2 linked regions of the Homo sapiens genome follow. Each later gene encodes a partner of the first gene's protein in a complex. Each region holds a gene or a part of one and is shown on either strand. Other genes may lie near its edges. A codon is read from its position in the direction of its gene.

Evidence for each region.
Region 2: the proteins of PDPN (region 1) and CLEC1B are in contact, whole or in part, in a crystal structure (PDB 3WSR), measured with the Homo sapiens proteins. Residues at the interface, in NP_006465.4 of Homo sapiens: Ala46 (codon at 6,444), Glu47 (codon at 6,447), Asp48 (codon at 6,450), Asp49 (codon at 6,453), Val50 (codon at 6,456); in NP_001380271.1 of Homo sapiens: Arg107, Phe116, Arg118, Arg152, Thr153, His154, Leu155, Arg157.

Annotation. Positions count from the first base shown.
Region 1 is NC_000001.11:13,600,798-13,608,098, forward strand, and holds part of PDPN (podoplanin isoform a precursor), read left to right. Parts: intron 1-6,375; coding exon 6,376-6,509; intron 6,510-7,301. UniProt on the Homo sapiens protein: Mediates effects on cell migration and adhesion through its different partners.
Region 2 is NC_000012.12:9,992,452-9,996,299, reverse strand, and holds the end of CLEC1B (C-type lectin domain family 1 member B), read left to right. Parts: intron 1-1,009; exon of another isoform or gene 1,010-1,053; coding exon 1,054-1,160; exon of another isoform or gene 1,161-1,275; coding exon of another isoform or gene 1,276-1,282; intron 1,283-3,012; coding exon 3,013-3,157; 3' UTR 3,158-3,225; downstream 3,226-3,848. UniProt on the Homo sapiens protein: C-type lectin-like receptor that functions as a platelet receptor for the lymphatic endothelial marker, PDPN.

The sequences.
Region 1 (7,301 bases):
GTGAAAGGAAAAGTGGGGATTTGTAGCCCACAAGCAGAATGAGGGGATCAGTGGGTGGAAAATTCCTAAGAGATGGGGTTGGGGGGACTCTTGCTAAACTGGCCTAACAAGATTCTTTGTGAAGGCAGGCTAAGGGCCTAGCCACCACAGCGCTGTTGTGAAATAAAGTCAGCTGGGAGACGCCATGTAAACCCTACATTGTGAGTAGCAAATGTGAGAGGGTGTTAGGACAATGAGGTGTCTTCCACGTTAAGTGGAATTTACAATGCTGCGTCAGTGCCAGATCTTGAACGACCCCAAATGCACCTGTTTGAATACTTACTTTTCCTCCTTGCCCTAAACACTGAGTTTTATTCTAGCTACTCCCTGGTCACTGATTTAACTCAGCAGCTGTCAGCTGATGTGAGGAGGAAGAGGGAGCTTACAGTGAAGAGAGCACGGATTTAGAAACAGCTTCTGGAGACTCTGCAGACAGAGGGCCCATGTGGAGTGGGGATAGTTGGCAGTGTCCAGGCCACTTAAGCTGGGCCTTGTGCTAAGTTTCTCCTGTAACTGTGACATAGTATTTGTTTGTTTTGGGACCATGTCTTGCTCTGTCACCCAGGCTGCAGTGCAGTGGCACAATCTTGGCTCCCTGCAACGTCTGCCTCCTGGGTTCAAACGATTCTCCTGCCTCAGCCTCCTGAGTAGCTGGGACTGCAGGCATGTGCTATCCTGCCTACTTAATTTTTGTATTTTTAGTAGGGACAGCATTTTGCCATGTTGGTCAGGATGGTCTCAAACTCCTGGCCTCAGGTGATCTGCCTGCCTTGGCCTACCAAAGTGCTGGGATTACAGGCCTGAGCCACTGCACCCAGCCATGACATAGTATTGGAAAGAAAAGATTTGTCTCAATGACAGCTGGTTTTGAAGCAGTGGGGAAAAGAGGATTTATCAGGGTGATTGGCTAATCTTTTGGGGGGAAATTATATTTCTCTTTTATTATAATACTTCAAAATAAACAGACAAAAATATTAAACGTAAGTACAATACCATAAGGAAAACATAGGTGAATATTTATGTGATCTTGAGGAAGAGTTTGTGAGTGTGATGTCAAAGAGAAAACAAGTTTAAGAAGTTTGACTACTGATAGCTTGGTCATTTGCAAAAGAAAGATGTAGGCCGGGTGCGGTGGCTCATGCCTTTGGGTGGCTCATGCCTTTGGGTGGCTCATGCCTTTGGGTGGCTCATGCCTTTGGGTGGCTCATGCCTTTGGGTGGCTCAGCACTTTGGGTGGCTCAGCACTTCGGGAGGCCGAGGCGGGTGGATCACAAGGTCAGGAGATTGAGACCATCCTGGCTAACATGGTGAAACCCTGTCTCTACTAAAAAATACAAAAAAATTAGCCGGGTGTGGTGGTGGGCACCTGTAGTCCCAGCTACTTGGGAGGCTGAGGCAGGAGAATGGCGTGAGCCCAGGAGGCAGAGCTTGCCGTGAGCCGAGATCGTGCCACTGTACTCCAGCCTGGGCGACAGAGCAAGACTCCGTCTCAAAAAAAAAAAATGCCAGCAGCATTTAGGCCAAAGAATACATTCTTAAGGTATGAACAGTGCTTATAAGAGGGAATGCCATGTGACCATTACAAAAACGGTCACAAAAGAAGACAAATGGATGAAACAACTCGCTCCACAAATCAAAGAAGTGTAAATAAAACCAGAAGACTGAAATCACTTATTTAAAAGATTTTTATTAAGAATTTGGACTATTACAATAACAGCCTGATTGAATGTTACATCTAAACTCAAAAGTACTTCTTTTTTTTGTCTCCCAGGCTGGAGTGCAATGGTTCAGTCTCGGCTCACTGCAATCTCTGCCTCCTGGGTTCAAGTGATTCTCCCGCCTCAGCCTCCCCAGTAGCTGGGATTACAGGTGTGCACCACCATGCCTGGCTAATTTTTTTTTTTGTATTTTCAGTAGAGACGGGGTCTCACCATGTTGGCCAGGCTGATCTTGAACTCCTGACTCAGGTGATCCACCCGTCTCAGCCTCCGAAAGTGCTGGGATTACAGGCGTGAGCCACCGTGCCTGGCCAACTCTAAAGTATTTTTAAAGAAATGGCAGGCTGGGCACAGTGGCTCATGCCTGTGATCCCAGCACTTTGCAAGGCTGAGGTGGGAGGACTGCTTGAACCCAGGAGTTTAAGAGCAGCCTGGGCAATGTAGTGAGACCTTGTCTCTACAAATATATATATATATATAAAAATAAAATGAGATGTCATCTCTATAAATACAAAGGAGAGAGAGAGAAAAAAACAGAGAGAGATAGAAAGAAAGAAATTCTGTTTAAAAAAGAAATGCCCACTTTGGGAGGCCAAGGCAGGCGGATCACCTGAGGTCAGGAGTTCGAGACTAGCCTGGCCAACATGGTGAAATGCCATCTCTACTAAAAATATAAAAATTAGCTGGGCGTGGTGGTGCACACCTGTAATCCCAGCTACTTGGGAGGCTGAGACAGGAGAATCGCTTGAACCCAGGAGGCGGAGGTTGTAGTGAGCCGAAATTGTACCATTGCACTCCAGCCTGGGTGACAAGAGTGAAACTCCATCTCAAAGAAAAGACAAAAGAAATGCCATCCTGTAATGTGTGCAATCTAGCGAGTTATTAGACATGAATGCAAAGATAAAAGTTATTCATAGTTAGTGATTTCATATAAATAAGCATTGCTTACGTTTATTTGTTCTCAAAAATTAAGAACCCCAAGTGACAGTTGATTTATCAAATCATCTTCTCCTAGGAAATAGAAACTTCAGCCTAGCTTTTTTTTTTTTTTTAAGACAGAGTCTCACTTTGCCACTCAGGCTGGAGTGCAGTGGCATGATCTCAGCTCCCTGCAACCTCCGCCCCCCGAGTTCAAGTGATTCTCCTGCCTCAGCCTCCCGAGTAGTTGGGGTTACAGGCACCTGCCACTGTGCCAGGCTAATTTTTGTATTTTTAGTAGAGACGGGGTTTCACCATCTTGGCCAGGCTGGTCTTGAACTCCTGACCTCGTGATCCACCCACCTCCACCTCCCAAAGTGCTGGGATTATAGGTGTGAGCCACCGCGCCCAGCCCTGCCTAGCTTTTTTAAAATAATCACAACAACAACAAATTTCAAAGTAAGTGGATCGTTTGCTGCCGCATTTGGAAACTTCCACTGAGCCGTGTTTGGCTGAGGCTGGGTGTGGCAGGAAAGGGTGTTTATGTGAGCACGCTGGTACACCACTCCAGAACTGAACCTGCAAGCTAGGTTGTGGGTATTGGTTTATGATGGCAAATTCGTCACTCTACACTTGTAGAAACAATTGTGTGTCTGCACATATGTGCATCCCTGTATGTGTGTGTGTATGCGTGTGTGCGTGCATATGTATGCCTGTGCATACATATGTCTTGGGGAAAAGAGGATTGGAAAGTGAAGGCATCCATGATTTGAATTTCAGGAGGAAGGGGAAAAGACATGAGATGCTGGCTGGAAACTCGGCAGCTGGCCTAGTAGGAACTCTTCACCCAGGGAATCCTTCAGCCAAGATACTAAGAGGGACAATTGGGGATCTCTTGTTAAAGTTCAGCTTTCCCATGGAGCAAAAAGAATGCTAGGGCGGTGAGACAAAAGACATGCATCTTAATCCTGACTATCATTCATAAAACGCCTTTTGTCCATTCAGAGCGATTTTAGTACTTGGCTCTGTGGGCCAAGGGTAGAAAAGAACAAGAAGGAATTTTTATAAAGTTACGCTTTCAATGAACTGAGCTTTCTATGAAAGAATTCAATCTAATTTCATTGAGCACTTGATTTTTTTTTTTTAAAGCAAGGATTGTTTTAAGTTAGATACACCAAATAAGTAAGTGATTGTACTAAACCGCTCCAGAAAACGTTTTTAAAATTGATGATTTGTTAACTAAGTTCAAACCAGGTGAGGAAGAAATAAAATGGGAAGCTTAGTAAGTTTTTTAATAAGGACTACTTGTCTGGCAAAGGGATATTTCCCATTGAGCTCAATAAATACACAGTAAGCGTTTGCCTACACCACAAGTCATACATTTTTGTAGGAGCCAATCACCAACCCTCACCTCTACCCCTACTCCAGCAAAAGGCCACATGGAGAGGCAAACCATTTGCATGCATGGAAATATTCGGTTATTGCTAACTGGTAAACCCCTCGCTGTACACCCCCAGATTAAAAAAATGTGTAGGTAGCTCATCCAAAGCCATCTCTACTGGATTAGGACTCTAGAATAAAAGAGCAGGCTCATAGAACAAGTGAACTAACTTCAGAGGCTTCCTCTAGGCATCAAAGAAGCTATAATCAAATATTTATTAGCTGTGCCTCTGGCTGGGCTGTCTAAGCAGTGGGGAGAATAAGGTATCTTAAGGCAAGGAATGGATTGCTGATATAAGTGCTGTCTAAGCAGTGGGGAGAATAAGGTATCTTAAGGCAAGGAATGGATTGCTAATGTAAGTGCTGCCTAGAGACAAACAAACATCTGCTCTTTCATTACACAAAGAAATTTCCAAGCACCTCCCTCCCCCTCGCTCCTGGGATGTGTATGCTTGTTTATTTTGCAACTGTATTTAGTCATGGAATTTCCAGAACCACTGGAGTTTAGGGAAGAAGCCCATGGCCAGTGAGTCACATTTTTAATGCACAAAGAGGGTTGTTTGGTGATTTTTGGAGATGATAATTGAGCATGGTCATGACTAGTTTGGGTCACTGCAACAGAAGTTGAAGAAGAGGATACTGCTGTTATCTGCTCTATCTCTCATTGTAGAATTCAGCCTGGTAGTCCACTCCAATTCCCTGCTCCAGCAGAAACCTTTTTTTTTCTTTGAGACGGAGTCCTGCTCTGTCACCAGGTTGGAGTGCAGTGGTGTGATCTTGGCTCACTGCAACCCCCACCTCCCATGTTCAAGCGATTCTCCTGCCTCAGCCTCCCAAGTAGCTGGGACTACAGGCATGCAACCCCATGCCCAGCTAATTTTTGTATTTTTAGTAGAGATGGGATTTCACCACGTTGGCCAGGATGGTCTCGATCTCTTGACCTTCTGATCCGCCCGCCTTGGCCTCCTAAAGTGCTGGGGTTACAGGCGTGAGCCACCACACCTGGCCCAGAAACCTTTCTCATTGGCATGACACATCATTTGTCCAAATGTTAATGCGGAAAAGCCAGGGCCAAGGGCAGTTCATTAGTTTGGCTCTTTTTTTTTTGGAGATTGGGTTTCGGCTGGAGTGCAGTGATGCGATCTCAGCTTACTGTAACCCCTGCTTCCTGGATTCAAGCAATTTTCCTGCCTCAGCCTCCTGAGTAGCTAGGATTATAGGTGCCCACCACCACACCAGGCTAATTTTTGTATTTTTAGTAGAGACAGAGTTTCACCGTGTTGGCCAGGCTGGTCTCAAATTCCTGACCTCAAATTCCTGACCTCAAATGATCCACCCACCTTGGCCTCTCAAAGTGTTGGGATTACAGGCGTGAACCACTGCACCCAGCTAGTTTGGCTCTTGGTGTACTAAGTGTTCTGTTGGTGTCTTGGCATCCCTAAGCATATTACTGACCCTCCCCTGTAGACAGTAATCTCAACTGTAAAGTAAGAGGTAAAACTCCATGTAATCTACGAGGTCTGTGGTCAGAGCCTGTGGTTCTAATTGTCCAAGTGAACAGCAGTCTTAAAATTAAATGGAGAGAGAGTTTGCTTTTAAAAAGATGGAAGTTGGGTGTGGTGGTGAGCACTTGTAGTCCCCGCTACTTTGGAGACTGAGACGGGAGGATCGCTTGAGCCCAGGAGTTTGAGGTTATAGTGAGCTATGATTGTGCCTCTGTACTCTAGCCTCAGCAACAGAGGGAGAGCCTGTCTCTTAAGAAAAATTAATTTGAAAAGGTAGAGAAAAAAATAAAAAAATAAAAAGATGGAGACCCCGCTTTTGCATCGGGTCTGCAAAGGGGTGTGTTTAGAAATCTTTCCTGTTGACTCTAATTTAGAGTTTTTAGGTCCAGATGAATATATTAATTCATCATATGAAATGACACCAGGAAGAATCTGGTTCCTTATTGAAAAGGAAAGATGTACGTCCCCTGTCCAGGCCACCTCGATGGGGCCCCAGGGAGGGGCTGGCTGCTCTACCTTTTAATGTTTTCATTTTCCTTTGCTTTGCAACGGAGATAACCAGGGTGTTGATGTGTCAGAAGTGCTGCAAGGAGAATGGTTTGGTTTCTGGCACCACAGTAAGCCACAAAAAGGACCAAAAATAAAACAAAAATTTCCAAAAGAAATGGAAAAGAAAATAATCCGAATGTAGCCGACAAGTTGGGTCTGCTTATGCAATTTCCACCTTAAGCTCTGACTCAATCTTTCTTCTTCAGCCAGCACAGGCCAGCCAGAAGATGACACTGAGACTACAGGTTTGGAAGGCGGCGTTGCCATGCCAGGTGCCGAAGATGATGTGGTGACTCCAGGAACCAGCGAAGACCGCTATAAGTCTGGCTTGACAACTCTGGTCAGTGTCCTGGGAAGAGAGGAATTTTTTCCGTAGGCATGTGATCACATGCAAGGCTATGATGTATATTAATTTACTTTATATAAAAATATATCTATCTATAAAATCAGCATGAGCCACCATACCAAGGAATAGTTACGTGGCTCAACAAAGAAGAATAAGTCCTCACTTAATGTTGTTGATAGGTTCTTGGAAACTGTGACTTGAAGCAAAATGACTTAGAAAGAACCAACATTATGTGAGGACCTGCTGCATGTCATTTTCCTTAAAGTCGCAGTTTCCAAGAATCTATCAACAACGTTAAGTGAGGAGTTACTGTCTTTCCCAATTTCGTCCACTTAGCTGGTGTGCTGATCACAGGTGGTTGGAGAGTAGAAGCCAGAGCTTCTCAAATTGGTAAAAGGAGCCAGGATTTTACATTTCCAATCTGTTACAGCCCAACTTTCAATACAATGAAAGTTTTCTTGGGTGTTGTGGCAATGTCATTGCTATAAAGGGTTCTAAATATATCTTCTCAGCCGGGCGTGGTGGCTCACACCTGTAATCCCAGCACTTTGGGAGGCTGAGGCAGGTGGATCACCTGAGGTCAGGAGTTCGAGATCAGCCTGACCAAGATGATGAAACCTTGTCTCTATTAAAAATACAAAAATTAGCTGGGCGTGGCTGTGTGCACCTGTGATCCCAGCTGCTCGGGAGGCTGAGACAGGAGAATAGCTTGAACCCGGGAGGTGGAGGTTGCAGTGAGCCGAGATCGCACCACTGCACTCCAGCCTGGGCAACGAGAGTGAAACT
Region 2 (3,848 bases), on another chromosome or scaffold:
GAAATTGTATAGTTGGATTTCAGGTAGAATTTATCTGTCAGTTCCTATTGGGAAGTATATAATATTGATATATTTTAAAGAAAATATTAGGATATAACAGAAAGGTTCCCGGTGGCTCAAGCTTTAAGAAATAAACAGTCACATGTGACTTTCACACAATATCTCCTGTGGAATGCCATTTTGAGTCTCACATATCTGTCAAGAAGCTCAAGTCATTTTTTATTTACCAAGAATGCATTATCACTTGTTATTCTGGGAGGTCTCAGAATATATAAGCATTTGGCCTTCACATAATTTTGTTACCCATAGATTGATTGATTCACTTATTCCTTCATTAATTCAGCAACTATGTGCTGAAACTATTCCAGAATTTGGACCTATGCAGTTAGTAAGACAGAAAGAAAAATGCTTAACCTCGACAAGAGTATATTCTAGTTAAAGCAACAGCCAAGAAACAAAGCAAATGATATAGTATATAGTTTAGTAGATAGTGATAATTGCTAATTAGAAGAAAGTAAATAGGGAAAGGTAGATGTACGTTATTTATAAATCCTTTTGAGAAAGACATCATAAATGCCTTTATCCAATTAACTACAACAAGTTAATACTTCCATATGTAAGATTTTATAGGCAAGCTGAGCAATAAAACCAAAGCAGGTAGGGCTTTAACTCTAAGGAATATACAGCTCATCAACAATGTATTTCTTTGTATTTCCTTTCTCTGTTTACATTTATTCCTTTGAATCATATTTGGTATTCTATTTGGGAGTATAATCCTCAACTGGTTGAAGATCTAAATACATGTTATAAACACAAAAGAAGATTAGAATATCAGCTATTTTGTGTACAATTTTACCTGTGTCCTATAAGTTTTTTTTAAGTTCTCAGACAAGTCAAATTGGTACAATTTCAAACATCAAATGTAATCCATTAATACTAATATAGACATGTAATCCAACATTTTTTGTCCAACGTCTTATCATGAAGCTTTGTCTATCATACCAAGAGCTGTGGAGGGATTCTGACCATTGTGTTTATTTATGTTTACAATAGGAGTACATCAAAGCCAGGACTCATTTAATTCGTTGGGTCGGATTATCTCGCCAGAAGTCGAATGAGGTCTGGAAGTGGGAGGATGGCTCGGTTATCTCAGAAAATATGTAAGTCACTGGACACTTAGAATAGGAGGGAGTACTGGAAACTCTTATTCTTGAGATTCCCTCTTCTCTCAGTCCAAGTCACTACTATGGGTTATAGAAGCAGCAGCTGGGTCACTTACCTGCTAATTCAAACAAGACAGCGCTGGTCATAAGACAATTCTTTCCCCTCTCTCCCATTACTTTGCTCTTTATCTAAGCCACAATCCACCTTTATCTCTGATATTATTCCCATTCATTTTTACATTCAACCTTACCATGGAACACTGTGTGCATGTATGTGTATGTGTGAGTGTGTGTGTGTGTGTGCGCGCATGCACATGTGTGTGTGTTTTTGTGTTTTGCTTGTTCTGATTATCTTCACATATTTTTAAAACAAAATTTCATATCATTATTTTACAGTTGAAAGTTGTTATCTTGAGAGTCCTTTTGAGTTTTCAATATTGTTTTGCCTATTCCTCTATTCTGGGAGTCTCCAAGAATTCGATACATTGTATTTCACAAGATAATTCCAATGTCCATTAACGAAGCTTTGTCCTTCTACAAACAATCCAGGCAAAGGGACTGATTGCATTGAGTGGAGTTGCTTCCTATATGGCTTTCCAATCTGCAGTCTCAACATCTTTTGTTCATCCTGTATATCAAAACTGCAGTCTCTCTTCAATTAAAATTTAAACTGATAACCAAAACTTATATAATCTGATTATTACTCAAATTATGAATTAAATTTTTAAACAAATATTTATTAAGTATTTACTATAGATAGGATCTTAGGATACTACAACTACAAGCAAGCCTCTTCACAGACCTTGGGCTTTATCTCCTATCTCCTATTGCTTGCTGCCTCATTTACAATATTGCAGGCAACTTAGTGTTCTTTACATTCTTCCAACAAATCAAACTCGTTTTGTTACCTTAAGGCTTTTGTCTTGCTATTTTCTTCTAGAATGCTCTGCCTCCACAACTCCATGACCATCTCTCCACTGAGACTCAAGTCTCTATTTAAACATCACTTCTTCAGTGAACCTAACTCTACCCAAACTAAATTAGCCTCCCTTAAACCCATATCCATACAGTCCACCACTGTTTTGTTTCTTTGTAACTCTTACCACTGTCTCAATTTTTCTTGTCTATTTTTTGTGGGCTTCTTACCGGTATCGCCCCACTTAAATGAAAGTTCCCCAACAAGAAAGACATTAGCTTTCTTGTCTTTCTTTATCAGTGTATCCTCAGCACATAGAACAACTTTGTCACATAGTTCTGCAGGTATTCTCCAAATAAACCAATAAGTATATATTCCTTGTCATCTCATTATAAGCAGTTTAGAAAGAAAGAAATATAACTTAACAGACAATTACAATACAGCCTGCTGTGTTAGATGATTTATCTTGCAACATAAATCCTGATTTCAAAACTACTGAATCAACTCACTTTTCCATGAGCGTATTCCCATCTAGTGCAGCTACTTGTCCTGTAGGGCTCTTCCATCTCCTGTCAGTTCATCTGAGTCCTGACCTTCCATCAATACCGAACTAAAGTCTGATCTTGTAGATAATGCGTTTTCCCATTATTTTGGAGCCATCTCCATCACTTCTTCAGGGCTCCTATTGTACCTACTGTTCCCTTGCTCCTAATTTTATGCTAAATGAAATTGATATTGGGCTTTTTAAATATGCATATCTTGTACTGCCAAGCAGGGTGGAACTTTCTCAACAATGAGAATCGTTTTTTTTTTTGTTTTTTTTTCCTATTTTCCTCAGTCTCTATTTGGTGCATCAAACTACTATACGCAGAGTCTGATTACTGATTGTTTGCTCAGTTTTCAAAGGAATTTATTCTAACTTTCCCTTCACAGGTTTGAGTTTTTGGAAGATGGAAAAGGAAATATGAATTGTGCTTATTTTCATAATGGGAAAATGCACCCTACCTTCTGTGAGAACAAACATTATTTAATGTGTGAGAGGAAGGCTGGCATGACCAAGGTGGACCAACTACCTTAATGCAAAGAGGTGGACAGGATAACACAGATAAGGGCTTTATTGTACAATAAAAGATATGTATGAATGCATCAGTAGCTGAAAATTGCTTATTTCTCCCTTTCTTCTCACTGGAGTTATTTTTAATATTATCTTTCCTATCAGAATTACCTAGTCCCTTCTTTGAATATACAGAAGCCATCACGTGAGTTTATCATTTGCTTCCCAATTGTTCTATTTTCCTTTAATTTTCTTTCTTCTTGTCCTTCATTTCTAATTACCTGAACATGGTATGATTTACTGCATCTTCAGATATACACATATAACATCAAAATCAGGCCAATATAGGTTAGGGCTTAATTAATATAAGTTGTGCAAAATATCTATGTTTGAAATCTGTCCAAAATATCTAAGTTTGAAAGGCGGTGTAAGATAGTAAAAAGAATATTAAACTTAGAATCAGCAAAATAATTTAGATGTCAATTAACTAAATTACAATCATGAACAAGTTTCATAACCTCTTTAACTTCCCTTTTCTCATATTTAAAATAGGAATAATAACAACCATCTTTTATATCTCACAGTTCTACAACCTAAAATAGAACTTTAGAGTGTTAACTGTACCAGAAACTCCATGAAAGCGAACACTATGACTTCCCCATTCACTATTCTCTTACCAGCACCAACCCGAAACCCTGGCTCACAAAACAGAGAG